Linked DNA regions of Homo sapiens. The protein of the gene in region 1 purifies or fractionates together with the protein of each later gene. This does not show direct contact. Each region holds a gene or a part of one and is shown in the gene's direction. Other genes may lie near its edges.

The links.
Region 2: the proteins of ST14 (region 1) and SLIT2 purify together in Homo sapiens (affinity purification with mass spectrometry; one large-scale study listed by BioGRID and IntAct). This does not show direct contact.
Region 3: the proteins of ST14 (region 1) and TGFBR3 purify together in Homo sapiens (affinity purification with mass spectrometry; one large-scale study listed by BioGRID and IntAct). This does not show direct contact.
Region 4: the proteins of ST14 (region 1) and FBN2 purify together in Homo sapiens (affinity purification with mass spectrometry; one large-scale study listed by BioGRID and IntAct). This does not show direct contact.
Region 5: the proteins of ST14 (region 1) and KIAA0319L purify together in Homo sapiens (affinity purification with mass spectrometry; one large-scale study listed by BioGRID and IntAct). This does not show direct contact.
Region 6: the proteins of ST14 (region 1) and SERPINI1 purify together in Homo sapiens (affinity purification with mass spectrometry; one large-scale study listed by BioGRID and IntAct). This does not show direct contact.
Region 7: the proteins of ST14 (region 1) and MAN1A1 purify together in Homo sapiens (affinity purification with mass spectrometry; one large-scale study listed by BioGRID and IntAct). This does not show direct contact.

The regions. Positions count from the first base shown.
Region 1 is NC_000011.10:130,183,512-130,188,016, forward strand, and holds part of ST14 (suppressor of tumorigenicity 14 protein), read left to right. Parts: intron 1-4,505. UniProt on the Homo sapiens protein: Exhibits trypsin-like activity as defined by cleavage of synthetic substrates with Arg or Lys as the P1 site. Involved in the terminal differentiation of keratinocytes through prostasin (PRSS8) activation and filaggrin (FLG) processing.
Region 2 is NC_000004.12:20,610,900-20,615,404, forward strand, and holds part of SLIT2 (slit homolog 2 protein isoform 1 precursor), read left to right. Parts: intron 1-4,505. UniProt on the Homo sapiens protein: Thought to act as molecular guidance cue in cellular migration, and function appears to be mediated by interaction with roundabout homolog receptors.
Region 3 is NC_000001.11:91,715,152-91,719,656, reverse strand, and holds part of TGFBR3 (transforming growth factor beta receptor type 3 isoform a precursor), read left to right. Parts: intron 1-192; coding exon 193-345; intron 346-2,948; coding exon 2,949-3,089; intron 3,090-3,262; coding exon 3,263-3,421; intron 3,422-4,505. UniProt on the Homo sapiens protein: Cell surface receptor that regulates diverse cellular processes including cell proliferation, differentiation, migration, and apoptosis.
Region 4 is NC_000005.10:128,303,921-128,308,425, reverse strand, and holds part of FBN2 (fibrillin-2 precursor), read left to right. Parts: intron 1-1,222; coding exon 1,223-1,291; intron 1,292-2,477; coding exon 2,478-2,603; intron 2,604-2,789; coding exon 2,790-2,915; intron 2,916-3,343; coding exon 3,344-3,469; intron 3,470-4,505.
Region 5 is NC_000001.11:35,448,693-35,453,197, reverse strand, and holds part of KIAA0319L (dyslexia-associated protein KIAA0319-like protein), read left to right. Parts: intron 1-1,406; coding exon of another isoform or gene 1,407-1,421; coding exon 1,422-1,570; intron 1,571-2,688; coding exon 2,689-2,840; intron 2,841-3,192; coding exon 3,193-3,331; intron 3,332-4,505.
Region 6 is NC_000003.12:167,794,487-167,798,991, forward strand, and holds part of SERPINI1 (neuroserpin precursor), read left to right. Parts: intron 1-133; coding exon 134-338; intron 339-4,505. UniProt on the Homo sapiens protein: Serine protease inhibitor that inhibits plasminogen activators and plasmin but not thrombin. May be involved in the formation or reorganization of synaptic connections as well as for synaptic plasticity in the adult nervous system.
Region 7 is NC_000006.12:119,342,257-119,346,761, reverse strand, and holds part of MAN1A1 (mannosyl-oligosaccharide 1,2-alpha-mannosidase IA), read left to right. Parts: intron 1-4,505. UniProt on the Homo sapiens protein: Involved in the maturation of Asn-linked oligosaccharides. Progressively trim alpha-1,2-linked mannose residues from Man(9)GlcNAc(2) to produce Man(5)GlcNAc(2).

The DNA.
Region 1 (4,505 bases):
GCCTGGGCAACATAGCAAGACCCTGTATCTTAAAAAAAAAAAAAAAAAAAGATTGCATTGCATCTATAGCTAATTTTGAGAATAGACACCTTAATATTGAATCATCTAATCCATGAACAGCGTATATTGCTCAACTAATTTAGGTCTTTTAGAATTTCTCCCAGCAGTATTTTACATCTTTCAGTGTACAGGTTTTGTGCATTTTTTGTCAGATTTACCTCTAAGTATTTCATATTTTTGAAGCTATTGTAAATGGTGTCTTTTAGTTTTAGTTTCCAGTTTTTCATTGCTGATATGCCAGTACAAAGACAGCTACGGGAGTGTTTCTAGCAGCTCTGTTTGTAATGGCCTGAAATTGGAGACACCCCAAATGTCCATCAATAGGTGAACAGGTAAACACATGTTGTGTGTCCAAACGATGGGATAAATGCAGCAACAACCAAAAGGTATGCACTGCTGGGCACACAGGAACCTGCGTGAGTCTCAGAGGAATCGTGCGGAGTGAAAGAAGCCAGATGGAAGAGTGCATACTGCAGAATTCCATTTACATAAAGCTCTGGGAAAAGCAGCCTGAAGCAGATGAGTGGTTTCTTGGGGACAGGAAATGGATTCAGGGAGGAACATGTGGGAGGGGCCAGGAGGAGATTTTGAAGGAGACGGACACGGGCATCATCTTAGCTGTGGATGGTTTCATGGGTGCATATGGATGCCCAAAATTGTACACTTAAATATATACACTTTATTTTATGCAATAATACCTCAATGAAGCTGCTTTTTAAATTTAATGGAAGGTTTGCAAGAGCAAGTCAAAGAAATTCCCAAAGTAGAACCAAACGCTGAAGAAACGCAAAATACGGGAGAGAAAAGATGACAGCTAGAGGCGTAGAGGATCCATTCTTATCCGTGATCTTCTGAAATGTCATCACAATACAATCTGTTTGGCTATATGTGCTGTTTCATTTGTCTTTCTCACCATTCACTGAGCCCTTTGAATTGGAAGATTTACAACTCTCTTCAGCTCTTGGAAACATCCTTTCAGTATTTCTTTGGTAATGGTCTCTTCTCTGCCAGGCTCAGAAAAGATTGGGCTCAAGTATTCTAGAAGACAGAGGTGAGACAAGAAAGGACATTGTTAGAAATACCCAAATCTCCACCTTGGCCCCAAGCAAAAAGACAAAGGCCCCAGCAGACTCCCACAGTGGATGGGAAAAATAGTCTGGAGAGATTGAATCAAAGAATATGTGGGCTTGAGAACCCCAGGTACAGAGGAAGGCTGTAGAGAGAGGTGAAAAGAAGGGGAATGAGTCTCTTCTCCTACGTGTTCCTGAATGCTAGTGGCTGGGTTTAAATCACTCCAGCCAGGAGATTAGAAAATTATTCTCTGGAGCAATGGAACCATCCACAGGAAGATGTATATAGTCTAACCATTGGGAGTGCCCAGAAAAAAAATCTGTTTAGCCACTCACTTGTGTCCCCGCCAGTGAAGCCAGTTGTGGCAAGGCATGCACACAGAGCTTCCAAACAGCCGCCAGGAGCTTGTTTCTAAATAAAAATAACCACCAAGGATCCCCCAGCATTTGAGGAAAGTCTTCAACATGGAAGAAAAAGTCAAAAACAGAGAAAAGATACTCAATGGAAATATAAAGATGAGAAGGTTTTGCATTCATGGAACAAATACAAGATGCCATGAAAGAGGAAAATTCAAAGAAACAGAAAGCTCTTAGAAATTAAAATTTTGATACCAAAAATGAAAAACTCAATTGAAAGGTTAAAAATAATGAGATGGATAATACAGAGAAAGGATAAATAGAGGATAAATATAATAAGGATTAAGGAATGGTAGACCAGAGGAAATGAAAGGGAGACATAATCTAAAAAATAAGACAGGAAAATCACTTTGGGAGGCTGAGATGGAAGGATAGCTTGAAGCCAGGAGTTCGAGATAAGCCTGGGCAACATAGTAAGACCTTGCCTCTACAAAAAATTAGAAAAAAATTAACTGGACACGGTGGTGTACAGCTATAGTCCTACCTACTCAGGAGGCTGATGTGGGAGGATTGCCTGAGCTCAGGAGTTCAAGATTACAGTGAGCTATGATCAGACCACTGCACTCCAGCCTGGGCAACACAGCAAGACCCTGTCTCAAGAAAACAAAAAGACCCAATTCAAAGCACATTCTCAAGGCTTTCAAAGAAAGACAATGAAGTCATAAGTAAAAGATAATGAGTTTATAACATTATCATATTTCTCAAAAGCAAATTAGAAGCTAAAAAACAGTGGAACCCTCAAAATTCTTTCTTTTTTTTTTGTTTTTGAGACAGAGTTTTACCCTGTCACCCAGGCCGGAGTTCAGTGGCGCAATCTCAGCTCACTGCAACCTCTGCCTCCTGAATTCAAGCGATTCTCCTGCCTCGGCCTCCCAAGTAGCTGGGATTACATGCACGTGCCACCGCGCCTGGCTAATTTTTGTATTGTTAGTAGAGACAGGGTATCACCATGTTGGCTGGGCTGGTCTCGAACTCCCGACCTCAGATGATCCACCTGCCTCGGCCTCCCAAAGTGCTGGGATTATAGGCGTGAGCCACTGCACCCAGCTTGAGCCCTCAAAATTCTAAGTGAAAATTATTTGAAACCTATAGTTCTATACCCAGCCAAAGTTCCATAAATGTGTGAGTGTAGAATTAAGGTATTTTCAGAAACATGCAAAGTATCAAAAAATATTCTTCTCAGAAAGTATATGTTCATCTCTTCTGGGTCTTTGTGGTTAGAAAAAAATTTTTAAAAAGTATGTGTTCCACCACAATGAAGTGTAAACCAAGAAAGATGAAGAAAATGATCCAGGAAATAGGAGTTTTAACGCAGAAGGAGATTAAGGAAAATCCCAGGGCAATGGTGAAGGAAGTTCCAGACAACTGCTATGAGAAAGGACAGGCGGCTCCAGGACTGTGGCCCTCAGGAAGAACATGAAATAAGTTATTTAACAGATGTTACATGTAGAAGATTGAGAAGAGTATTGCAGAGCTCTCAGATTGTATGTAAAGATTTGGGTACAAGTTAAAAAGAAACCCCAGTCAATGAAAATTCACAGCAGGAAAAACAAAGACATATACAAAGAAAGGAAATATAATAGTGAACAATATTTTCACAGGCTAATAATGAAAACCTAGAGTATGGATATAATTTTTTTTAAACTCTGGGCCTGTAACTATTGGGAGGATGGGGAGAGAAAGGGTGGAAGGACACTAAAATCCACATTGTCATAATAGAAAGTCAGCCGATGTCTAGATAGATGAATCAAGAGATTATGGCGTTGGCATATTATTTAGAAATATAGAGACAGACTCCAGAACAAGCATTTTGAACACATTTTAAGTGGCCGTCTGGGGTGTGTTTCTGTGTGTGATATTAGATCAAGTCACAAATATGGCCAATTAGGAAACTAAAATTGGAGTTACAAGTATCCTATCCCAGTAAGGCAGGAGTGAGGAGAATCTTTCATGCAGTGAGTTGATAATGGGTAAATGTGACAAACCAAGACATATCAGCTTAAATTTACACTGTCGAATTACGAGATCACCACCAGAAGAATGACATCAGGAAACTGTCAAAAGGGCCAACACCTGTGGGTGTGGGATGGGCTGTTGCTTTTGTTGTGAGCCGTATTGAGTGGGCGTGAGGTAGTTAAACTGAGAGTGCCACAGTGCCAGGCCATGGTGCATCCCCAGGATTCAGGGCGGGCAGACGGCATGTGCTATCGGCAGAAGCCTTCGCCGGTCCGTCACTGGGTGCAGCAGACACCCCACCTGCCCCTCCGTATTCTGGCCCCTCATCATGGATACCCTTGGCAGGGAGGAACCCGGGGAAGTTGCCATCCTGTCTTTTGGGCGTTTGGTTTGCTTGCTTTTCCCTCTGTTGGGGCTGCGCGTGGGTGTGGATTCCCACAGTGGGCCTCTCACTGTGCCTTGAGGTCCTGGACTGGGGCTCCCAAGGTTAAACACAGAGCAGTTTTTTCCATGACAGCACCACCTTTTTACTTTTGGCTGGTTCACCATTGGCAGGGCAAGGCCGCTGGGTAGGGTGTGCAGTTGAGTGCTGGCCACAGGCTCCTGGGCCAGGTGATGGGGGGATTGAATCTGGTAGGGGCTGTGTCCGAGGGAGCAGGGCCTGCTCCTAGAAGTCTGCACAGGGGTACCAGTTGCCAGTCATGGGCCTGGGCTGGGGCCACTCTCCGGGGCACCCACCTACGTCAAAGGTGATTCACTGAAGGGGAGACCTGGATGACCGGGTTCGACAGCCCTTCATTGCGTTTTAATTTAAATGAACAATTCGTAAGCAATGATCGCCTGGTGCTGTCCAGACCCTGAGATGCGTGGTTGGGAAGGCCGACCTCATGTTCCTCCCAGAGCATGCCCAGGGTTCATGTCCCGGGGTCTGCGCTCTGGGCAGTGGTCCCCATGCCTCTGGGGGAAGCCCCCTTCTTCTCACCCAAGCCCCTGCTTTCTTCT
Region 2 (4,505 bases), on another chromosome or scaffold:
ACAGAGATATAAGCAAAGTTCTGTAGGAGCCCATCGGAGAGGACCCGCAAAGGAGAGAGGTCCCAATCTTGCCTCTATTTGGAGGAACAAATATAAACTGGAGGCATAGAGTTTCAAAATTCTGGTAAAGGAGCCAGAAAGCAGTTAATGCTGAATTGAGAAGCATTGGATTAAATTACATTGAATTTATTTGAATTGACTGATTAACTTATTTTACAGATAAATAAGTAAAAGCTTTGAACAGGTTAGTGTACAATTTCATCACCATGACAGATATTTTCATGAGTTTCACATCATTTTCTGAAAAATAATAACCTATGCTACACCATTATCTCAACCACTCAAAGCCTTCTTTTCAGTGCCTCTAAGCCTAGGACATTTCTGTTTTAATAATTTCAGTAGTAGACAGTCTTAACATTTTGACAGAGTTGGATTGTTTTAGAAACAGTTGGAAGTCTTTGGTTCAATTCTGTAAATATTTATTGAGTACTTACCACATACTAGGAACTAAGTAAATGGATACATAAAGGATATAAAGTTGAAGAAGAAATGTCCATTCTACTCCCTAAAAAGTCAAGAATGCAGAGGCATCTTCAAGTAACTATAATGCATTATAAATAAAGTATTGCATAGTGAGTCTACTCAGCAAGTTGACTTATCTGATTGCTTCATGGGAATCACAGCAGAGAGTCTCATTAAAAACCAAATCTTCCATTCTTGCCAGCACTCCAGTTTACAGGGTTGCTTTTGGATGGGTGAAGCCAAGTCACAAGCATACCTGTGATTTGAGAGAAAATAAATTATATTTATTGAGCACATGCTATGTGCCCAACACAGTGCTCCTTTTATAGCCTTAATGTGCAGAGATCTTAGGAAATAGGTATGATTTTCTCTGTTTTGTAGTCCCTGAAGAGCAATCTCAAGGATTTTATATAACTTGTCCAAGTACACAAAGCTATTATGTAGTAGACACCTCATTTAAGTCCAGATCTGGCTGACTCCAAAGCCACCTGCATTGCCATTCACTTCTTCACATAAAGCAGAAAGGGAACAAATCTAAGTGCTGTGGCCTTTTGTTGTTTATTTATGGACTTTTCGTTCACTTGATTTTATTATGTTTTCATTAGAATCCACTTCATTAAATCTTTCGAAGCCCCTTTAGAATATAGTATAAAACCAATTTTAAAAATACAGGGGGCTGGGCATGGTGGCTCACACCCATAATCTCAGCACTTTGGGAGGCTGAGGAGGGAGGATCATGTGAGCCCAGGAGGTTGAGGCTGCAGTGAAACATAATTGCACCATTGCAGTACAGCCTGGGAAACAGAGCCAGACACTATCTCAAGAAAAAAAAAAAAAAAAAGAATACAGGATGAGACTGTTTAAGTCAGAACATTCCCCCGCCCCCCGCCAAAAAAAAAAAAGAGGAAAAAAAGTTTTAAATTTCAAAATGAAAAGTATTTATCCTTCTGAAGGTAGAGGGCCTGGAAAAATTCAAACAACACCTCTGTCCACCCAGGCCTCAAGGAAACCACTTTCATCCCAGTCCCACTGCCAGAGATCACCATGGGCCCACTTTCTCCCCGCTTAGAGTGCAGTCTCAAGGGTGACTCAGATTTTCAAACCACAAGGAACCTGTAAGACCACAGCCTTGAATGCTGTATGGCAAAGGCATGAGAAGCAGAGGGAGAAAAGGAGAGCAAGGTAACTAAGTTCTCTTTAAAAATAGTGACTACAGCTGGGCGCGGTGGCTCACGTCCGTAATCCCAGCACTTTGGGAGGCCAAGGCGGGTGGATCACGAGGTCAGGAGATTGAGACCATCCTGGTTAACACGGTGAAACCCCGTCTCTACTAAAAACTACAAAAAATTAGCCGGGCATGGTGGCGGGCACCTTTGGTCCCAGCTACTTGGGAGACTGAGGCAGGAGAATGGCATGAACCCAGTAGGTGGAGCTTGCAGTGAGCCGAGATCGCACCACTGCACTCCAGCCTGGGCGACAATGGGAGACTCCATCTCCAAAAAAAAAAAAAAAAAATTATGTCTACAGTGAGATACCATCTCACACCAGTGAGAATGGCTATTATTAAAAAGTCAAAAAATAACAGCTGCTGGCAAGGTTGTGGAGAAAAAGGAACACTTATATACTGTTGGCAGAAATGTAAATTAATTCAGCCATTGTGGAAAACAGTGTGGCGATTCCTAAAGACCTAAAAATAGAGCTACCATTCAACCCAGCAATCCCATGACTGAGCATATAGTCAAAGGAATCTCAATCATTCTATCATAAAGACACAGGCATGCATATGTTCATTGTAGCACCATTCATAATGGCAAAGACATGGAATCAACCTAAATGCCCATCAATTCTAGACTGGATAAAGAAAATGTGGTACATATAAACCATGAAATACCATGCAGCCACAAAAAAAGAATTGAGCTGATGCCCTTGGCAGGAACATGGATGGAGCTGGAGGCCATTATCCTTAGCAAACTAACACAGGAACAGAAAAACACATACTGCATGTTTCTCACCTATAAGTGGGAGCCAAATGATGAGAACACATGGACACAGAGAGGGGAACAACACACACTGGGGCCTAGCAGAGGGCGGAGGGTGGGAGGAGGGAGAGGACCAGGAAAAATCACTAATGGACATTAAGCTTAATTCCTGGGTGCTGAAATAGTCCGTACAACAAACCCCTCGTGACATGAGTTTACCCGGTTTGTTATACGGTAACACATAATACACTGTTGGTGGGGAGTGTAACCCTCATATACCCCTGAACTTAAGATAAAAGTTAAAAAACAAAACAAAAAACAAAAAAAACCAGGGATGCTGCCCAAGGAGGACTGCCTGAAGGTGTTGCCTCAGCATCTGGGGAGAGGCAGCCCCTTGGTGAGTATATGGAGAGGCAGCTTAACCTACCCTTGGGTTATCAACTACCCATGATATGTGCTTTACTTGACACAATTTTTTTTGTTTTTCTGAGATGGAGTTTCGCTCTTGTTGCCCAGGCTGGAGCGCAATGGCACGATTTTGGCTCACTGCAACCTCCACCTCCCGAGTTCAAGTGATTCTCCTGCCTCAGCCTCCCAAGTAGCTGGGATTACAGGCGCCTGCTACCACGCCCAGCTAATTTTTTATACTTTTAGTAGAGACGGGGTTTCATCATGTTTGGCAGGCTGGTCTCAAACTCCTGACCTCATGTGATCCACCCACCTCGGCCTCCCAAAGTGCTGGGATTACATGCATGAGCCACTGCGCTCGGCCGACACAAAATAATTTAGTTTTCATGTTTTTCTGTCTGTAGTCCAACTGAACCCTTATTACCTAATGGGGAAGAAAATCAAAAAATAAGCCCCATGCATGGAAATCCATGTATATGCAACAAATGTCCTCCTTGTCCTGCCACGGGACAGAGGACCTAGGCTTGATACTTGGTCTCTTTATTGCCATTTTGAGGCCTGTAGAAATAAGGCTAAAAGCTGTTTGCTAAGTTATCTGTTGGTTGATTGATTGATTGGCTGATTGATTGAATGATTTCCAACTAGGCCAATAGCATAGAGGAAAGGCTTAAAAAAAATCATGGATCTGGCCAGGCGTGGTGGCTCATACCTGTAATCCCAGCACTTTGGGAGGCTGAGGCGGGTGGATCACCTGAGGTCGGGAGTTGGAGACCAGCCTGACCAATATGGAGAAACCTGGTCTCTACTAAAATTACAAAATAAGCCAGGCGTGGTGGTGCATGCCTGTAATCCCAGCTTCTCGGGAGGCTGAAGCAGGAGAATCGCTTGAACCCAGGAGGCGGGGGTTGCAGTGAGCCAAGGCTGCGTTCATGGCACTCCAGCCTGGGCGACAAGAGTGAAACTCCGTCTCAAAAAAAAAAAAAAAAAATTCATGTATCTACTTCTGTTTGTCAATGAAGACCTAGCACGTGAAAAGATTGACTCAGAATAATTCCTGATTTTATGATAGCCTATTGAAACTCAAATATACGTATGATGTCTAAACATTTTCATTTACAAATTACTCTAGTCAAAGCTGGGCTTTTTCTAATTGTTAGCTTTGGAACAAAAAGGAACAGATTTACTAATTGTTTCTCTGTGCTGTGGAACTTTGCCAATCTGTATTTATTCTTGACATGTGCACATATGTGTGTTGTGCCTATATCAAAATGAGCTATTAAAAATAGTTTTGGAAGAAGTTCATTTTTAACCACTGAAAAAAGGACCATAAATATGTGGTCATTAAAGTCCTTATGATGGATGGATATGGTTAAATTAGAAAAACTTACCCCAGGGCAAGGAATTTTCTGTCACCAGTCCTTTCCTGGAAATGGTAAGTTTCATCCTTTTGACCCTGCTCTAGAAAGCAACCCACAGCGAGATGGACATAGACTAAAGGCCTGTACTCACAGAACTTCACAGCCAAGAGACTTCATTCAATACCTGTCAGAGTGTAACCATGGACTACCCAAATCACCTGAGCTGCATGTAGATATT
Region 3 (4,505 bases), on another chromosome or scaffold:
TTTCCAAGGCCAACAGATACTACCCTTGAGCTGTTGAGAGGTGGGCAGCTGGGAAGAGATACTTGGGGAAGGGGCACGATGCAGGCCTCTCATCGCCTGTCCTTGGAAGACCAGGCAATTGTCAATTGTGTCAATTATACAACAGAACTGCCTGTGGGCCTCCAACCATGTCTTTGGTGGTTGTTGTTTTAGGCCAGTGGCTACTCGGGGATGGACGTCACCCTGTTGGATCCTACCTGCAAGGCCAAGATGAATGGCACACACTTTGTTTTGGAGTCTCCTCTGAATGGCTGCGGTACTCGGCCCCGGTGGTCAGCCCTTGATGGTGTGGTCTACTATAACTCCGTGAGTGTTTTCCAGAACAAAGCTTTGCCCTTTGCCAGAGCCTGGCTGTGTGCTCCCTTAAAGTTAGTCTTAACATTTCTTTGAAGATGAAGAGGGTTTTCACCCCAGGCCTGAAGAAAGCCAAGTGTCAGTTCTCAACAAAATGGATGTACTTTGACCCTGAGCTCTTTGGTTTTATTTGTTTTATTGGTGAGTCTTTGGGAATTGGAAGGCCTGTTTTCTCACCCCCCGTTTCCGTCTCCTGATGACAAAGGCTGCACTGTCAAGGTGATTATGACTTCTCTCAGTGCCCAAGCTCAACTGGCCCTTATAAGGATAAAATTTTAAGGCCCTGGGCTATATGAACGAGCAGCACCTCTGCACAGCCGGGTTAACCAGATGTGTGGTCTCTCTGGCCTCATTTGAGTCTCGTCCAGAAGTAGGAGAACTTCTCCCTCCTTCATGAATAAAAATCCAAAAAGAGAATTTAAAACTCAAAAAGGACCTTTAAGGAATTATTAAGTCTCTCTCCACCTCTAAGAAAGACCATACATTGAAGAAACTCTCCTACTTTTGAAGTTACTTGGAGAAAGATTCCACAGATTTCCCCCAATGATAAACCGTTGCAATAGCTAAGCTGCATTTTCCAGAAATCTTTCTTCTCAGTTGGTCAAAATCTTTTCAGATTAAACCCATTCTCTTGGGTGCAGAGACTAGGCAGTGAATATTAAAAGAATTTAAAATGTGAAGTTCCAAAAGAACTTTAAAGTGCTGATTTTGCATTTTGGGTTTTACTTTTAATGGTAAAAATAAGGCTCAGAGATCCCTGTGTCCACCTTTGACACAGGGTGGGTTGGGGTGGGAGGGGGGGTGTCTTCTTAGTGCCATATCCAGCTTTGACATGGGGTGGCTGAGCTGTGGCTGCTAGTTCGACCCCATCCAGAGAAGAGAGGCTAGCAATCAGGTGCTCTGGTCAGCGTGGTTCCTGTGGGAAGTGACTCTCCCATGAACCCAAGCATATTGTTCCTCAGAGAATATTAGACTGTTGGAGCAGCAAATAACCCTAAGATGAGCTTATTCAGCTTCTTCATTTCACAGGTGAGGAAACTGAACTCCAAGAAGTTAAAAAGACTTGCTTTTTTAAACTCCAGGGATGGGCTAATGGCAGAGCCAGGACGACTGAATCCAACTTCCTGACCTCTTGTCCACTAATCTTTCCTAGACACCAGGCTAGGCCCTGCTAATCTCCTTTTGTTACTCAAATAATTAATTTATTAACCTTTGACCTCCTGATAATTGCAGCATGAATTTTCGTTCAGTTATCCAGTGTCTACAGATATAATGAATGTCATATATTACTGAAATACTTGATTATGGCATTTTAAAACTGGGGTCCAAGTTAACACCAAAAGTGGCTACAGTAATATGTCTGTTAAGAAAAAATAAAAAAAAAAAAAAGTCAGTTGCTTCAGGAGAGAAAGGCATGTAATGATCCCTTAAAGTTCCTTTTTTTCTCACATATTTTTCTTTTCTTTATTATGATCTTTGAGTTTAGCAATATCCTAGATGCTTCCTTTAATTGGCGTCAGTACTTTCTTTGGAGGACCTGGTACAGAGAGAAAGGCAGTTTGTTTTTTTTTTTTAATTTTCTTCCCATCCTACTCCCTTTGGAGACTGTTTTAGCTGTTCTCACCAATTATAATTGTTTGTAGTAATTTTCAGACTTACTATATATTTCTATTTTGCATCATGTTCAGAATCCAAGCATGTGAAGCAAAAGAAATTAGGATTTCATTTATGGCGTCATGACCCTTGGGTGAATTTTCTCATCCTATTTAGAAATAATCCAGGAATCATAATTTCAACCTATGTCAAGATAGATTCCGGGAATATATCTGCAGGTGGATAGCGAAAAAGGTGGAAAAAAAAGATTCCTGGAATAAAACGTATTCTTTTCCACATCCATACACCATAGAGAAAGATTTCTTAGGGAAGAAATGAGCAAAAGTTAGAGGGGTACAAGAGCGGCAATGAAGAGATGTGCTCCATAGTAAACATTAGGTCCTTCGCTGCTGACTCCAACCAAACTTTCTACAACTCTTAAAGGATATATATAACCAAACATTAGGTCCTTCGCTGCTGACTCCAACCAAACTTTCTACAACTCTTAAAGGATATATATAACCAAAGCTTCTTGTATTCGCCAACTGCTAGTAGTTCTTAGAGTTTATAATATAAAGACTCTTAAGGGGAAGCCCCTTCTCACGGTATAGGCAAGTCTCTTGACAACTCCATTCAACTCCATTCTAGTATCTAGTGTTTTCCCACCATTTGAAATCATTTGTAATTATTCAATATGGTTACAACATAAATATTTATTTTTCACAAGAGAAGATACAAATATTAGTTTAGCTTTTAACTTGAACCTGCATTGGGTTTCTCCTTATTCTTCATCACTTTGAAGATATAATTCGAAAAAGCCTGGATGTTATTTTATTATTTTGTCTTAAAGTCAGATTTTCAATTTGCATCAGAATGATTACATGAGTGTTTGTGTGAGGCAGAACCAAACACACATGGTTTGGTGTTTTTATAACATTGGCTGTGCTTTCTTTGCCTTTTAGATTGTGATACAGGTTCCAGCCCTTGGGGACAGTAGTGGTTGGCCAGATGGTTATGAAGATCTGGAGTCAGGTGATAATGGATTTCCGGGAGATATGGATGAAGGAGATGCTTCCCTGTTCACCCGACCTGAAATCGTGGTGGTATGTGTTTGTTATCAGTAGGGGGTTTGTGGAAAATGCTGTCTATTTTGTTGGCTTTAGTTAGGGACTATCTGAAAATAAAATCAGATGTTAAAAGCCAAAGCTCATGAAGCTACAGGGCCTTCATCCTTCATATGACTGTCATTAATCTTCCTGTGGGTTGTTATTTCCAGTTTAATTGCAGCCTTCAGCAGGTGAGGAACCCCAGCAGCTTCCAGGAACAGCCCCACGGAAACATCACCTTCAACATGGAGCTATACAACACTGACCTCTTTTTGGTGCCCTCCCAGGGCGTCTTCTCTGTGCCAGAGAATGGACACGTTTATGTTGAGGTGAGACCTGAAAGTTAGCCTTGACCTTTTAGGTTAGTGCTGGGCTATAGTTCCTTAGACATCAGCTAAAATACCCTGTACAGACCTCTTCCTGTCCTACCTCACAGACCTTCAACAGGTCTGATGAGGGATTGGCTCAGAGAACGCTTCCAGACTGACTTCTGACCAAAGCAGGAAATTTCAAGATTTAATACATTATGCTAAGTGAAGACAGTATTTTGTAGATGAATGTTAACAAAAAAAAAAATTGGCAAGTGTGAATTCTACTGGTAAAGCCCTGTCCTTTGCTTTTGGAACAGTAGTTCAGTAGTTGCAGTGTTAGAGTTAACCATGGAATATTTCAAAACCACCTCATATGTTATCTTTTATTTCTTTTTTTTTCCCTGCACAGTCCCCTTAGCCCCCAGCAGGGCAGCCAAATCCCTGTGGGTCCATGCCGCCACTGAAACTGACTTGTTATCTTTTAAATTGCACTCACTTTTAAGTGAAATGCTATGTGCTATTATAACTCATGACATTTTTTTTTCTAGATCATGATCTGAGTATCTGTATAAACTTATTTAAACTATTTCCTATATATAATGTTAATAATCATGTGCAACCTAAATCTGGAATCTGGAGTGACTACACAATATTAGGCAGTGGCGGTAATAATGAAATAACAACATCTAACATTTGCTGCAGATTTATTATGTGCCAAACAGAGTTGTAAGTATTGCAGCAGTTAGTTAACTCTTTAGAGCCATCCTATAAGGGAGGCTAATAATATCTTCATTTTATGGATGAGAAAATTGAGGCACAAATTTGTCTGAGGCCACACAGCTGGTACTAGTGGAGTTCAGATTCAGTGCTCATAGGCCGTGTGACTCCAGAGCTCTGACTGATCTTCGCTGGATACGACTATCACTTATCTCCAAAGTGCCATTTGAAAGGGGAGAAAACATAACGTCTTATCAATGCAAACATCCAGGTTCAGAGAGTGGATTCTAGAAAAGATAAATGTCCTTATGGCACCAGGATGTCTGCTGTTTCTTGTGCCCTGGGTACAACCTTTCATGTTTCAACCTTAGTGTTTCAAGTGGGC
Region 4 (4,505 bases), on another chromosome or scaffold:
ATGAAAAGCAACACATAGGCCTTTTTCAGTGGCTCCAATTCACTGGTCAAATGGATTTTCTTAGCCTTATCTTGCCATTATTATGTTCCATAAAATTAAATAGAAACATTCCTACAATTCTCAACTTTAAAACTCCATAGTTACAAATTTAAGATCATTGATTTGGGGAATTAAAATGGCACTTTCTTTGTGAGAAGAAGCGAAAGGCTTGGAGTTGAGAGACGTGTCTGTATTTAAATCAAAACTCTTAAGATACTTATTGTGGAACCTCCTGCAGAGTATGTATCCTTTCTGAAACTAATTTCTCATGTATAAAATAGGAATAATAAATAATTACAGTGACTAATTCATATGGGTGCAATGACAATTAGGGAGATTATACATATAAATTATAATTTGAAGATTTCCAGACAATTAGAAACCATTAAGTTGAGCATCTGTGGTCTTTCTATCTGTTCTCAATACTCGGTATATATTGATGGATGAAATATACAATATCCCTGACCTGATAGCACTTGGAATATAGTATGCAGTTTAAGTTTTATATAATACTGTTTTCAGGAGTTTTACTCACTTGTATAGCAGTGAGCGTCAGAAGCATTTTTCATCTTGCAAATTAGAATTCTTTTAAATTTCCATTGATTTGGTTAATTATGTGTAAGAATACTTCTTATAGTCCCTATTTTATTTCATAATGCATTGTTTTTGATGACTCAAATTTCACATTCCAATAGACACAGTAAAAAAAAAAAAGACAAAATTCGCATCTCATTCATTATACATTGTTTACCTATTTCCCCTCTACAACATTATTTTTGCATGTCTATACCTTTGTGCAATCTGTAATTCCTTTTTCAATTTGTACTTCTCTTTTTTTTTAATCTTTATGTATTGGATGTTTTTTAAAGCTCTGCATATTAAAAGAAAAAGTATTTAAATATCTAAATGGACATTTTGAATCTTATAATGATTTACTTGCCTTCTGATATCAGAGCAGTAAAAAGTTAATGAGAGTAATAGAAATAACAATGATAATAATGGTAAAGAATGCCTAGATCCACTCCTAGCAGAAGCTGGCATTGCTATCAAATAAATATAATTGAAATCAAAATGTCTGGTTGTGAATAATGTAAAATATATTTGTTTGTGAAAGTAATACAAAATGTTATTTTGAAGGAATTTGAGAAATTTAAGAGTGCATTGCTTTGTTTATATTTTAAAGCTGACTTTAAAACCATATGTGGAAATATTCCTGGATTCACCTTTGACATTCACACAGGAAAAGCTGTTGGTGAGTTTTTCCAGATTATGTTTGTTTTAATACATATGTGTAGCATTCTGTAAAAATCTATTCTATGTTTTTAAAATTCAAGAGTACCACAAAATATAATAATCTGGGATCCAATCTAATATAGTTAGATAAGAGAGAAATAACAGGCTTACAGACTCTAACCAAGTATTAATAATGATACTCCATCAGCGTAGTCTGGTGATTGGGTTATGGTAGTTATGTGACTCTCTCGATATTTGTCACATCCACCAAGCTAAAGCTTCAGTTGTCCTTGTCATGCACATTGTATTACATGACTCTAAATAATCTACCTTATTTTAACCTTTAGTTGCTATTTTCTTAAGTACATTTTTTAATTTTTGGTGTATTTTTGCAGTATCCCTTTTTACTGGTCTAAATATGAATGTGCAGACTTATTTTTCATATTAATTAATTCCTTCTAAATGTACATTGTGTTGCTCACTCTAGCTTCCTTCCTCAAAGATTTGATAAGCAATATAATTTTTTTTTTTGAGATGGAGTTTTGCTCTTGTTGCCCAGGCTGGAGTGCAATGGCGCGATCTCAGCTCACTGTAACCTCTGTCTCCTAGGTTCAAGTGATTCTCCTGCCTCAGCCTCCTGAGTAGCTGGGATTACAGGCACCCACCACCACACCCGGCTAATTTTTTGTATTTTTAGTAGAGATGGAAGTTTCACCATGTTGGTCAGGCTGGTCTAGAACTCCTGACCTCAGGTGATCCACCCTCCTCAGCCTCCCAAAGTGCTGGGATTACAGGCGTGAGCCACCACACCTGGCCTAAGCAATATAATTTTAAGTCTCCATTATGAATATATGATAAAATAAAATACATACAATGATGAAAACATAGCTTTTTAAACAAATGAATAGCAGCACTTAGGGTAACCTGAAGAAGGGGTTTGATTGCCTAGAAAGTTCATTTGCTATATTGACTCTGAAATTACTTGGTATATTTTATCAGCTACTTAGATTTTTTCCATCACTGTTTCTATTTTCTGGTATATATGTTTTTATAAACCAAAAAAATTAGCTATACTAGTATATAATAGATTTTTGTGACACTGAATATTTGTACTCATCCCAGGGTACATGTAGCATTATTCAAAGTTATATGGTAAGTATATTAAACAGAACAACATATATTTGACCAAATCTGTTCCATTTCAGACATTGATGAATGTAAAGAGATTCCAGGCATTTGTGCAAATGGTGTGTGCATTAACCAGATTGGCAGTTTCCGCTGTGAATGCCCTACAGGATTCAGTTACAATGACCTGCTGTTGGTTTGTGAAGGTAATCTGAATAAAGTATGTCCTTTATCCAGTATAATTTGGTATACATATATAGCATTTAGATGGTTTCTGATTTTTACTATTTCTTCTACAATTTTTCAAGAGTTGATCATCAAAGTGTGACGTGAATGTAATGCTAATACAATACTAAAAAGGACTCTTTAAAATGGAATTGTTGCTCTTTCAGATATAGATGAGTGCAGCAATGGTGATAATCTCTGCCAGCGGAATGCAGACTGCATCAATAGTCCTGGTAGTTACCGCTGTGAATGTGCCGCGGGTTTCAAACTTTCACCCAATGGGGCCTGTGTAGGTAAGAAAGAGGCTGACTCATTCTTTGGCACTGAGCACAAGATTCCTTAGATTTCCTATCAAAAAATACTTCAAGAATAATTTGGGAAAGATTTTCTCACTTAACCTGTTCATTTATAGTGAACCTATTTCACCATATCTTTTAGATGATTTTGTTAAGAAAATAGATCTCTTCAATGGATTTCCCCAGGATTGGACCTAAAATAAAATAATATCCTTCAGATACCAATAAACATAAAAAAATTTGCATGATTAAAAAAAGAGGGTTGGATACTTTGAAGTCCTGCTCATTTTGATTCAGCTGTTGTTATGGTTCATTTTCAGCCTGCCTATAATAATTAATAGCAGATTAGAGAAACACAACTGTGAAAAATGAAGAAATCTTAATAAAAATCAGATACATGTAACATTTATTTTTTTCTGTTTTAGATCGCAATGAATGTTTAGAAATTCCTAACGTTTGCAGTCATGGCTTGTGTGTTGATCTGCAAGGAAGTTACCAGTGCATCTGCCACAATGGCTTTAAGGCTTCTCAGGACCAGACCATGTGCATGGGTAAGAAGGGCATGTGGCTCCAGGGAGTGAAGTGGGGCTGGGGTTCCAGAACAGATCACAGTTCCATCAAGTGCCATGAGTAACTACTATGTCTCTGTCAGAAACAATCTTGCAAAAAATTAACTAGGTCAAACTATTTAAGTCTTGATTCAATATAAAATTTGCAAGCAGGGACATACTGCAATATATAAAATTTGCAAGCAGGGACATACTGCGATATGTTCGTCAGTTCAGTGATTCACAGCTTTTTCTCCAGAAGATGTTCACATGGCTTGACAAGAAAAAACCCTCTGAGCCACTTGGGCTTGTGTGGAACTTACCATAGCACCCGCTGCCCTTTACTTTCATGTTTCTACTCAAGACACCATTTTGGAATGCAAGAGAGTAGTAAGAGTGACAGCATTAAACTTAATAAATTTATACACATATGCACATACTTTTTTAAAACAAATTGTTGAATAGTGGGATTTATGTACATATTTTGTGTTTTATCCCTTAAAAATAGCTTTAGGAGCAAATATAGCCAAACTCTTTAAAAATTCCCAGTAGCTAATGTAATGGGTAGCCAAGTGGTAATAGAGCTTAGTGAGTACTTGCTGAGCTGATGATTAATAGGTTTTCAAAGACAGATGGGCTGGATGCCATGAAGCTGGGACTGAGTATAACCCCTTAAGTCTGATGTCAGCAGTTGGCTCTGCCTCTGCTGAAGAGTTTTCTTTCTGTGCTTTGCACTTGAAAGGGGAAAATTAAATTTAAAACTTGGCTACTTGTAATTAGCATTTTCTCAGTGTAGAAAAGGCTAGGGCTGTTCAGCTACTCTTGATATTCAAGATATTATCTATGTGAATATTAAAATCAGATTTCAGTACTGCAGGACTGGTTTCCTTCATGACACATCCATACAACAGGGAATACCTGGAGTATGTCTCCAGGTTCATCCATTGCCTCCTAAAGCCCTCCCTTTGGACTTCTCCTATAATGGCAGGGAAAATTCTCTAGGTGATGTTTATACAAAGGAATATACAGGATCTGGTCT
Region 5 (4,505 bases), on another chromosome or scaffold:
CACGGGGGATGGGGCAGAGCAGCTATTAAGAGAAATTGAAAATACATCCATAAAATGAAAGCATTACTCTGTTATTGTTTTCTTGAAGACACCATTTACCAATTAAGTTAGCCAGAGGCCAAAGGCGGTAATCAAAATAATTCTAATTACATAGAAATTACCTAACTGAACCATTCTTAGTTCCTGTAGTTTCTTTTAGCTCCTTTAAAGCATAACTAATGCAACTGAAATTATATGCAGGATCCCACAAGTAGCAAAAGAATTCTAAGAAGAGTTAAAAGTATTCTCTGTTTCCAAAGGTAGCAACCATAGGACAGCCTGGGTTTTTTTTTGTATTGTGTTTGTTTGTTTGTTTGTTTGTTTGTTTGTTTGACAAAGGCATTGGAGATGGGTGGAAAAGAACTTTAATTTGACTATACAAATGACTTGCTTTTGAGATTGCTGAGTTGGAATCTAGAAATTATTTCCCTCAGCTCTTGTTTTTATCTTTTGTAGAACATAATCTTACCCAGCCCAGGGTGTTTTTAATTATAATTGTTTATTGAAGATATGGCTGATAGACCTTTTAGCTGAGTTTTATTAGTGTTTACAGCAGAGATAATGCTTAGCATAGCTTCTTGAAGGAGACTGTGCTTCAGGAGGAGCTACCAGGATCAGAGGCTGTAACTTTAAAAGGCAAAACAAAGTAAATCCTGGATGTCTGCAGATTTCTCTGGCTTTCCTGTAGTTAAAAGCTCTGGGGCATTTTGATCCTTGAGCAGAGGGCTCTCTGGCTGTGTGCAGCCTGAATGTTGGCACAGAGCTCCCTTGGCTGCTGCAGGCAAGTCTCTGAGGCCACAAGGGGGAAGAAGGGTTGTAGGGTGTCCTAGGTGCTTGATGGCCCCTGTCCAGGAGCTGGAGGGAACTTTGCTTATAGAGTTGCTACAAACAAGATGATTTTGTCCTGAGAGTTCCTCTGCAGTCTTGCCCCATTTCCTTTTCTTTCATCAGGAAGGATTTGGGCACGTGATTAAGAAATGCATTTTGCTTCCTTGCTGGCAAGAGCCAAACCAACTACTGGGCCAGAAATGCTTTTTAGAAACATCACTCTTAAATCATTCTTTTGATCAGAGACTTGCTCAGAGAACTTTCTTCCTTTTACAAACTAGAATGGTAAAGCGTTCAAGTGTTCTAGAAGCTCATATAAAGGATAAGGCTAGAGGTGTTTGAAAGCTATTTGAATTTTCTGACCAGCAGGCAGCCTGTATTTTGAGGCCAAATGACACTTTGTCCAATTGAAATATTTTTAAACATGTCTTGTCAAGGTCTGGGTAACAGTAGTTCGTGTCTTTGCTGAGGGAGTCATTGTCTCCTCCTGCTAAGTTAGGGACAGGACAGCAGCAGACAGGTACAACTCTACCCTCTAGTTTCTTTTTTTGCAGGGGACCTGATGGGGTGCAGCTCGAGAATGCTAACAGCAGTGTTGCTACTGTGACTGGGCTGCAAGTGGGGACCTATGTGTTCACCTTGACTGTCAAAGATGAGAGGAACCTGCAAAGCCAGAGCTCTGTGAATGTCATTGTCAAAGAAGGTACCTCTCTGCCTCCAGTTTGTGTAGCAGCCTCTTAGGGTCAGATAGCTGAAGAATTTATCCTGTCATGTTTGCCTGCAGAAATTGATTAGAGATAGCAAGAGGTGGGTAAGAGGGTTGGGGTGAGGGCAATTGTTATTTTCTTTTCTAAAACAGCCTTTAATTGGACTGTAAGGTGAATTTTAACTTCCCTCCCTCCTCCTGCTTACATCTTCCCTTCCCTCTCATCCCCTTACTTTCTTTTCAGTCCTCCCTCCTTCCCTCCTTACTTTATTTCTCAGTTGAATAGGGAAAGAATTAAGGGTTCTATTCTTTGCATTTTTATTTTGCCCCTCTGCATTGCTGAGACCTGGGCCGTGACTCCTGTTAGCTACAGTGACACCTGCTGTCAGGCTTGAGAATGACGGCCGCACTACAGCTGACTATGCTTGCCCTGAGCCTTTGAGCTGAGGCCAGCCAGAGGCCTTGCTCTAGTTTACAGGCACAGTGACCAGTGAGAGCTGTGGGAGAGGGCCTTAAGTTGAGGGCCTTAAGTTGATAGCAGGAAAAACCATCAGATATGCAGACCTCCAGACATAAGATACCAAGCTGAGTAAATACTGCACAGACATCTGAATATACAGAGCTTCACGTGGGGCTCCGAATAAGAGAGGTAGCTCTTTGTTTTCTCTTGTGAAGTTCCAAGGAAGGGGTCCAAAAAGATATTCAGAGAATAACATTTTAAGATATTTTGAAGGAGAATTTGCAAGATCAGCTAGGTGAAACCTAAACTCCAAGGTTTTAAGCCAGTTTGGGCCGTTATTTCTGATCATCACATACCTCCAAAGCAGAGAAATGGATTCCATTTGGGAAGGCTGCTGGGAGAATATGAGAGGAAAGCACACTCGTCCCCTCTGTTGTACAGTGTTAGGAGAACATTTCTCTGGGTAGGACTGGAACCTCAGGACTGCAGCGCTGGTAGCTTTCATCTACACTGTTGGTTGGTGGCAGGGACAGGCACTTAAAAAGGTTCTCCAGTTAAGGTACTCTTGATGTTTTAATTTCCCCATAAGCATCATGAAGAAACATTTCTTCTTTTCCAGAATGTCACATTATGTCAATGATTTCTTTTTGATTAGAAATAAACAAACCACCTATAGCCAAGATAACTGGGAATGTGGTGATTACCCTACCCACGAGCACAGCAGAGCTGGATGGCTCTAAGTCCTCAGATGACAAGGGAATAGTCAGCTACCTCTGGACTCGAGATGAGGGGAGCCCAGCAGCAGGGGTAAGTGTGCTAGGAGCTGGAGAGCTACACAGGAGTGGGGAGGAGGAGGAGCCACGCGTTCCAGTATATGCTTTAATCAAGTGGTCCCTTATATCAAACCCAGATTGTTCTCTGAAATCCAGGGAGGTGAAGTGACTTGCTTAGGGTCATTCTGTAAGCTAGTATAGCACAGAATGGGTTTCCCTTCCCTGATCCTAGCAGTTGTAGGCTGCAATGCTGTTCCGTATCAGGAACTGCCCAAGGTTGAAACAGTTCAGCCCTGAAGGGCCTAGTTATGGTGAAAGCAGCAACTGACTCCAGGAAAGGAATGGCATTTTGTTCTGTAACATAGCCATGTTGTTCAACCCTACAGGAGGTGTTAAATCACTCTGACCATCACCCTATCCTTTTTCTTTCAAACCTGGTTGAGGGAACCTACACTTTTCACCTGAAAGTGACCGATGCAAAGGGTGAGAGTGACACAGACCGGACCACTGTGGAGGTGAAACCTGGTGAGTTCATTTAGTGATGAGGCTGAGTAGAATTGCTGAATCAGCCAATCAAGGCCTCTATCCTGAGATCCCCTTCCCCGAGCATGGACAGAGCCAGATGGCATGTCCAGCTTTAAAAATAATCGAGAAACCCCAAGCTGAAAAATCCATAGAGACCGTCTGTTCCAATAATACCTCCTACCCATGCAGAAATACAGACCTCCCCCTATTCATCTCAGATGGAGAAACAAACTCAGAGAGGGCAGGACTTGCTCAGTGTCACACAGCAGTTGTGTCAGAGCCAGGCCTTTGTGCTCGTAGTCCAGCACTTTCTCCTCTCCTCGTGACTGATGAGAGAGGGCTCAGAGTGCTTGGGAATCTGAGCATGGGAATAGCTTGAGTCATGATGTCTCATCAGCATCCAGATGCAGAAAACAATTTATTTTTATAAGTTGAGCCTCAGGCCTTGTCTGATAATCCAGGGAAGGTAAAGTAATAGTGCTCTTTACATTTTTCAGCTTTGCAGAAATAAAAATTTTCTTCTTAAATAGAACCATGTTTTTATTTTGCTTTGAGATTAATATGGTGATAGGGAGGCACTGAGTATGGAGGTGGGATAGAGCTGTATAAATTCCTGAGCTTCTGATGAAATGGTATTAACTTTAAACCTACTCTTTATTATCTAGGCCAACCTCATATATGGATGTTTTGGACAGGAAGGGATCTTGGGAGGTCTTCCAGTCCTTGTCCTGCCTCTAGGAAGGACAGTAGCTGAGACACTATAAAATCTCTTTGGTGTTTAAAGTCAGATCACAGATAGTCTACTAATTATGCAAATTATACATCAGAACAGGCAAGTGGTGCATTCAAGTATGTAAATAAGGCATTCCAAACAATCAGTTTGAAATTCCAAATGTAGAACATCTTTAGGACATATTCAAAAGTAAAACATGATAGCCTCACCGTTTTAGAGTTATACAAAGATAGTGCAGCTGTGATGTGGCTCTAAGGAAATCCTTGTGTCTTGGCTGACTGGATTTTCTTTTGTTAACTGTATTTAAACCTGGAGGGACGGATGCATTCCCATTATTGAGGAGGTTGTTGAGATGGACACTTTTCCTCCCATTGTTGTGCACAAAATACAGCGAGGCACTGAAAATCAGATGTGAGTCAGGAGAGATTGCTTAATAACCCC
Region 6 (4,505 bases), on another chromosome or scaffold:
GTGATTTGTGAGATTTTGTTGCACAAGTACCTGAGCAGTGTACACTATACCAAATATGTAGTCTTTCATCTCTCGCCCCCAGCTTTTTTTAAGCTTTGATAGGCATCTTTTATGGCCTTTATTTTCTTTTTAGGGGAATTTAGTGATGGCTCCAATGAAGCTGGTGGTATCTACCAAGTCCTAGAAATACCATATGAAGGAGATGAAATAAGCATGATGCTGGTGCTGTCCAGACAGGAAGTTCCTCTTGCTACTCTGGAGCCATTAGTCAAAGCACAGCTGGTTGAAGAATGGGCAAACTCTGTGAAGAAGCAAAAAGTAGAAGTATACCTGCCCAGGTATGAGGTTCCTGTGTCACCCGTCCCACAGCATGGACGATGGGCTATCAATGAAAATCTGACCCAGAAAAACTCTTCGAACTGCTTTCGAATTATAATTCTTGTGCCACTCTCTTCTTATTCTTGTTCTTCTCCTTCTCTTTCTCCTTCTCCTTCTTCTTTGATTTTCTTCTTTTTAGTATTCTTTCATAGTCATTTCTTTCATACTCATGTGGTCCTTCCCGTAGACACATGCTCACTTATTGGTTCATTCGGTGCTATTCATCGAGACCTAGTTTCAGATATAATTCAGTGTTCTTGTCTTTGTTTTAGAAAATTTATCTATCTGTTTTGTCTGAATATCATTTGCATTGACAGTCTTCTGTATTTTATTAACACTTAAGATTGATTATGACTGGAGAGGAAACAATCTCTGACATTGCTAGAAGAACTGCAAGCAAGTCACTGTGCTAGGTGCTGAGATGCAACCATAAATTAGCAGGAAGATGCAACTCTGCTCAAAATTCTCCCTGTGGCTAAAAGAATAAGATGCACACAATGCCTTTGATGTCCTGAATGCCATCCCCTTCTCAACCCCATTTCTGGCCACTCACCACATCAAGCATGTTGTAGCATGTTCTGTCCATGTACTTGTGATTATGCCACGTACATCATGCTCTTTTCATGTCTCTGAATCTCCACTTATGTTCTTGCATTGGCCTAAACTGCCCTCCTCATATTTCTTTCCCAAGATAGTGTTGCTTAGCCTTCAGGGTACACCTCTAGAACCAGTTCTTCTCTGAAGCCTCCCATGGAACTACCTGGAGCAAGTTACCCTCATTTTTGCTTCACTTATACACCTTTCTGTTATTACTTGTTACCATCCCATAATAACATTATCTTTTTGTAGGGCTAGTTTTCTTTCTGTAAGTTCTAGGGTAGAGCCAGTTTTCCTTCCTGTAGAAAGAACACAGTAAGTGTTTACAAAATGAAACTGAACTGAAAATGTTTATTCTATCCTTGAATACCTTAAAACCTAGTAGGAAAACTAGGCCAGTAAACACGTAGAACATGTTTATTAGCATACTATGTAAATTTTAGTCTAGAAAACAAGACATATCAATAAAAACAGATTAAATATATACGTATGTATGTACGTGAAAGTACAGTTAAAACACATTCCATATTAAGAAAATTGTTCAAGTATGATTAATTACTGTGAGCATTAAGGTGATAAATGAGTTATTAGTATTAAAGATGAATTATTAATAACTGATTAACCCATTCATATTTATTCTAATTTTAGGAATTATCATTTAAGGATTACATTTTATGTAAATATCAATGTTTCTAAAAACTTAGCTGATAGTTTGTTATGTAAGTGAAGGAGATCTATTTGGAACTATGGAGTTTTTGCCTGGAAAATTGTTTTATAATATATTCATAATATGGAATATTATGTTATGTCATAATTTATTATATAGCATGTCATGTTATATATTCATAATATATAACTATAAATATATAGCCATATATTTTCTATTTTTTATATTTTATTTTATTTTAAGGTCTGGTATATATGTGCAGAATGTGCAGGTTTGTTACATAGGTAAACGTGTGCCATGGTAGTTTGCTGCACCTATCAACTCATCACCTAGGTATTAAGCCTTGCATGCGTTAGCTATTTATCCTGATACTCTCCCTCCCCGCAACCCCCTGACAGGCCCCAATGTGTGTTGTTCCCCTCCCTGTGTCCATGTGTTCTAATTGTTCAGCTCCCACTTATAAGTGAGAACATGCACTGTTTGGTTTTCTGTTCCTGTGTCAGTTTGCTGAAGATAATAGCTCCCAGCTCCATCCATGTCCCTGCAAAGGGCATGATCTCATTCCTTTTTATGGCTGCATAGTATTCCATGGTGTATATGTACAACATTTTTTTTTTATCTGGTCTGTCCTTGATGGGCATGGCATTTTGGGTTGATTCCATGTCTTTGCTATTGTGAATAGTGCTGCAATGAACATATGTGTGCATGTATCTTTATAATAGAATGATTTGTAATCCTTTGGGTATATACCCGGTAATGGGATTGCTGGGTCAAATGGTATTTCTGGTTCTAGATCTTTGAGGAGTCACTGTCTTCCACAATGGTTGAACTAATTTACATTTCCACCAACAGTGTAAAAAAGTTCCTTTTTCTCCACAGCCTTGCCAGCATGTGTTGTTTCTTGACTTTTTAATAATTGCCATTCTGACTGGCATGAGATGGTATCTCACTGTGGTTTTGATTTGAATTTCTCTAATGTTCAGTGATGTTGAGCTGTTTTTCATGTTTGTTGGCTGCATACATGTCTTCTTTTGAGTCATGTTGTTCATGCCATTTGCCTACTTTTTAATGTGATTGTTTACTCCTTGTAAATTTTCTTATAGATTCTGGATATTAGACCTTTGTCAGATGGATAGATTGGAAGAATTTCCTCCCTTTCTGTAGGTTTTCTGTTCACTCTGATGATAGTTTCATTGCTGCGCAGAAGCTCTTTAATTTAATTAAATCCCATTTGTTAAGTTTTGCTTTTGTTGCAATCGCTTTTGATGTTTTTCTCATGTAATCTTTGCCTGTGTCTGTGTCCTGAATGGTATTGCCTAGGTTTTCTTCTAGGGTTTTTATAGTTTTTGGTTTTACATTTAAGTCTTTAATCCATCTTGAGTTAACTTTTGTATAAGGTGTAAGGAAGGGATCCAGTTTCAATTTTCTGCATATGGCTATATATAGCCACATATTTTCTTGTCTATATACAAAAGTCAAGGCAATCATAACCCAAATCCTTTTGGCTAAGATATTTAGCATGCATAACTTTCTGTGACAATACATATATGTAGAAATATTCCATTATAAGTCTATTCTTAAGGAGAGGTAGTTAATGAATACCTACCAAGCGTTTTTTTTTTATGTATGATAATTGACATTTATATACTAAATATATAAACAATGTACCTTAATTCCAAAGAACAATTTACTTTTGAACATGAATGATTAAATTTAAATTACTATGTAAATCAGGCCTAAAGTTATAAAACATTTAGTCTATGTTGGCCCTCATCTAATGACCTTTCACAATTAATTTTGTATTTTTTCTTGCATTTTATGAAGAATTCTTTTTGATAAAATGAGAAATTCAGTACAGTGTTAATGCTTCTCTTATTAAATCCATGAATTAAGTGCAGTGCTTCCAAATGCTCCAATTCTATGAGGATGCAAATTTATTTAGGAGTATATTAACAGAATTCTAAATGAATGCTTACTAAATATTATACATTCTAATTCAACCATATTCACTAGAAAATGTGGCCTCTAGGTCCTGTCCACTGAGAAACTGAATGTGGCAGCAGAAGAAAATTAAATTTTCATTTCCTAAGAGATACTCTTCAATTATGAAATAGTTTGGCTGTCTTGCTCATATTCATGCCTGTACTAAATTAGGCACAGGTAATTATCATGTATCAATTTTTCCAGAAGTTCCATAAATTCTCCCTGTACATGGCTAATGCATAGATAGGGAGGCTAAATAGCAAAATAAATAACTCTGGATTCCCCTTTTAACAGAATGGCTCTTTTCAAATACTTATATGTTACAATAATCAGTGTGAAACTCTCCACCTTCTCCATTTTACAGCATTAGGATCCACTAAATGTTTGATAATGGTAATGATTTATGTGACCCATTTTTAGCAAAGGTAAAAATGTTTTTCATAGCTATACTCTGTGTTTACTCAAGTGTCAATTTTAATGGTTTGCATAGTTTTATCCACAGAGAGATATTACTCTGAAAATGCAACTTGCATTTCTGTATTTTGACCACATTCTTGTCCTGCTTGACAGGTACTTTTACTTCCTATTTTGCTAGAATTTATACAAACAGCTTTCAAACACTGTCCTTGAAAACCAAATACTGCATTTTCTCACTTATAAGTGGGAGCTAAATTTTGGGTACTCATGGACATAAAGATGGCAATGACAGACACTGAGGATGACTAGAGGAGGGAAGACGGAAAGGGGGCAAGGGTGGAAAAACTATTGGGTGCTGTGCTCACTATCTGGGTGACAGGATCATTTGTATCCTAAACCTCAGCAATATGCAATATACCCATGTAACAAACCTACATACGTATCCCTTGAATCTAAAATAAAA
Region 7 (4,505 bases), on another chromosome or scaffold:
CCGAGGAAAAGATTTTAATACGAAAGATACATAGATGTTAAGCTGTTGGTACTGACCAAGAGTGATTACAAGTGCATTCAGAGCAGAACCAGTGGGGCAGTAGCAGTCTCAGACTCAGGACAACATATTAACAGTGTGCATATCCATCCAGTAGATCCATGTTGTCTGTATGCCTAAATCACAAGGTCTTAATTAACCGTGTAAACGAGATTTACGTAGTCTCTGTCTAACATCTTAGCACCTAGATGTTTTGAAACCGCTCAGTCTTGCATAAAGCAGTGGAACTAAATGTGTTCTTTAAAATTCCTTGTTGCTGTGAGAACCCAAAAGAGCCAGCATAATTAGCTTTAGTGTTTAGTCAAAGGCTAATGGGAAGAAATGGATTATGATTTTCCATCAGATTAGTTCAGGCAGATATATTCCTTTGTAAACCAAAAGAAAAAAAAAAGAAATTATGATGCTGTTCTAAAAACTGTGCTGTAAATATTTGGCTTTAGAGAGGCAAGAGTGGTTGCCCATTGTAAATAGGGCACTGGACTTTAACTTTACGTATTTGGATTCAGTTTCAGGCACCACTGTGGACATTTTGTTATCAACCAGTAGATCTTTGCCTTAGTTTTTTTCTTTACCATTGTGTTTTCTTTTCTTTCTTTTTGGAGACAGAGTCTGGCTCTGTTGCCCAGGCTGGAGTGCAGTGGGGTGATCTCAGCTCACTCCAACCTCTGCCTCCTGGGTTCAAGCAATTCTCCTGCCTCAGCCTCCCAAGTAGCTGGGATTACAGGCACGTGCCACCACACCCAGCTAATTTTTGTATTTTTAGTAGAGACGGGGTTTCACCATGTTGGCCAGGCTGGTCACGAACTTGACCTCAAGTGATCGACCTGCCTGGCCTCTCAAAGTGCTGGGATTACAGGTATGAGCCACCATGCCTGACCTGTTCCTGTATTTTCTAATTCTCTTTATACTTAGGTTCTCTATCACACCTGAATGCACCAACACTTATAGTTAAAATTTAGAAAGTGCACTCAAGTCTAACATGTTGGAAGACTGGATTGTAATTTGAGTCAACCTGTTATTTTGTACTTGGTTCAAAGTCAGTCAATACTATTTTTTATATCTATGGCACATTTATGTTACTAGTACTGCAGTAGATTTTTAACAACTTCGTGTCTTAGGGGAGATACTCTGTTAATTTCAAATAGGTCATTGTACAGAATGCTTCACAAAAAATGTTAAATGCTTTCCACTACTGATTTGATGGATGATGAATCTTTGATGTAAAACTTCAAAATAGAATTAAGATCTTCCTCCCTTCACCTCTGTTAAAATTTTGTAAATTAACCCTGGGATTTCTCTGAGATTTATGATACATACATAGTGTATATTTATTTTCATGAGTTTGATCTTAAAATTGTACTCAGGTTGTCCTTAGCTTTAAAAAGCAGTGTTAGAATAATGAAGCACAAAAGTTAAAATAGCAGCATGGAAGTTTTAGAAAAATAGTCCATTTACTTTTTTTTTTAATCAGAAATCATTTTTAGCTTCCCTTCTCCCCCGCTCCGCCCCCCCCTCAACCTCTCCCATTTTCTCAATTAGCCTGTGCTGTCCTTTAGGATTAGAACCTTAATCCAATTTGGAGGATGACTTTTTTTTTCGTTTTTCTGAAATTAAGGGGAGACCTGAGTAATAGGGGCTGGGGCTAAAGACAGTCAGGTTGTCAGAGGGGACTCCTTTCTTCTCAGGCTGGAATCCTCACCAACCTAAGTGGGGGTTAGGGGTATGTGCAGACTGGCAGCCTTAGATTTGTCATGTAAGGCTTTAGGACCCTGCACCTGTGGGGTCACAGTTTTCTTCTCTCAGTTCTAAAACAAGACTTTAGTATTTTATTCCAGACCTATTTGTGTAATCATGAATTTAAAGAACATTTTCATATTGATGGCTAGTAGTTAAAATTCACATTTATTATACTTTATGCTAGCCTTAGGCATATAGCCTATAATTTATATTAACTATTGACAGTTTATACCCTTTTGGTAAAGATCAGATGTGAGAATAATCTGCCTTGGCAGGTTAAAACAAAACACTTTTATTTTGACACTTAACTTTCCAGTTTATTTTTATGGGTAGTTCTGGGGTGGAAAATAATATTTACAAAATAATAAAAGCCATGATTTGGAGACCTGACCCAAGAAGCTTCAACATCCTTAGGTTGCTTGCCTGTGCCACTGTGCCGTGACACATTCCCTACTGAACATAGGCTAGTGTGGGATTGCTCCACCCAGAGGCCCTTCCCCAGAGCAGGGAGGACATGGAGTGTTTGTGAAGGTTTTTCTCTCCTTAACAAGTAGGTTAGTTTTCAACAGTTTAAGTACTGGAGTAGGTGCTGACTGTTAATATACAAAAGCAAAAAAATACATATATACAGTAATGGGTAGTTAATTATGTTCAGCTTCATTTTCTGTAAGCTGTTGATAGTTTCTCCTAGAATATTCTGTCTTCCTCTTATCAAGGCAACTGGGATTCATATAAAGGAGCTTCTTATGTATATGGGACTTAGAAACTAGTTAAAAGTGTGAAAAGAGGTTTTAAAAAATATTTTCAAACAAATGCATCTATCTGTACTTCTTAGGTGAGCTAATGAACTAAACCATCTTGAAAAATTTATCTTAGTATTACACAAAATGCATTTGTATGAGATCTGAATTGGTTGGAATTCATTGAAGAACTTACATATTTGAATCAGATTATTTCATAAGCTGTGGTGGTACAAATTTTTCATTGAAGAGAATTTTAAGCATGTGTCCGAAGGTCAGAGGGGAGGAATGCCTGCAGATCCGTGTGAGGGATGAGGGCTGAATACACAGGGTAGATCAGAATTGCACTGGAACCTGGTTATACCTCCTAACCCAGTCAAGCACCTGTGGTCTTTTAAATTTCTTTCTTTATAATCTTGTGTATGTTGGTCAAAGAAGGGTTTGATTAGTCAAAATAGGAACAGCCACTGTGGGCTCCAGAGATACTGTGAAACGAGTGGCAAAACAACCTCCCCGCCAAGTAGACGAAAATAATAAACAAGATACCTGTTTGGTAGTTTAGGGAAGAGATTCCCTCTTTGAGGAAATAAGTCTTGACTTTTCCCTCAGTATTCTTAGCCTAGTTCCTTGCTTGGTGTTCAGTGATTGAACTATATCTTATCCCCACCCCCAACCTCTCAATCTGTTAAAAGGCCCTTTACACAAACTCTGCAAATTATGCCATGATAACTTTAAATCTCAGATTTTAAAACTAAGTGTATGCTCCGAGTCGTAAGGTATTGCATCTGAATGAGATCTGAGAGGTAGCTCATTCATTTTACAGTAGAGGCAACCAAGACACAAAGATCATTCTGGAAATCACATCACCAGCTAGTGGCAGAGTTGAGTTGCAGAGGGAAGCCCCAGTCTTCTGTGAGTGTTGCGCATTGTCTCCCACATGGTTTGTCTCCTAAATAAAACCCCAAAGAATTGTATAAATTATCCGTGCTTACTATTTGCAGACCCTAATAGAGAGTACAGAAAACATACAATTCTGCATTATTATAAATTTGACCTTATACTAAGTTGGTGGTTTTTCTTTTTTTTTTTTTCAGCCAACGATGGATCAAAGTAGTTTTTAAGTCAATTATAGTAATTTTTAAAAATCTTACCAGTGGCATGGTTTAGAAATCTTCTTCTTTGTAAAGACACCCGGGGAAAGCTTGATAGGACATCTTGTTTTCTTTATAAAGATCTCTCCAAGAAGCACAGGCATTTGTAATCATTCAGTTAAACATTCTTTATGAGGAAAAGTGGGGAAGAAGAAGGAAGGGAGAGAAGAAGAGAGTGAGTTACTGTATATACAAAGGGTGAAAGGGGATCACCCAGAGAAGGGACATGTGATGACTAGAAGGGCTGCTTTAAAATTATAAATGTGTGTGCTCTTCTGATATTGCACCATGGATAATAGAAGAATGACAGCTAACCTAAAGGATGATTGTTTTAAAAGTAGACATGTAAAAATCACACCAATCTATGGGCAATTCTCTCCACCCAAGTAGGTTCTGGCGATTCTCTTTTGGGATGCACTTACCTGTCTCTGATCCATCCATTTGAAGCAATGTAGTGGTTAGAAGGGTGGATCTGGACTCAGATAACGTGGGTCTGAATCTGGCCTCTACCATTCTCTTGCTTTGTGACCGTCTGCAAATTACTTAATCTCTCAGAACTTTAGTTTCCTCATTTGTAAAATGAGGTTAATAGTACCCACTTTGTTGGATCCTGAGGCTTAAATGTGATAGTAAAGCACTTAGAATGGTATCAGACATGAAGTGGGCACACAACAAATGCTGCTTGTGATTATTGCTGTTACTGGTCACCACCTAAAGCCATCAAGCCAAGATTGCATTGATCCATATGCTGTTTAATAACTCAGGAAAGTGGATAATGAAGTTTCAAAAGGGTATCAAAAATAGTTAAAATTGAGTTTTA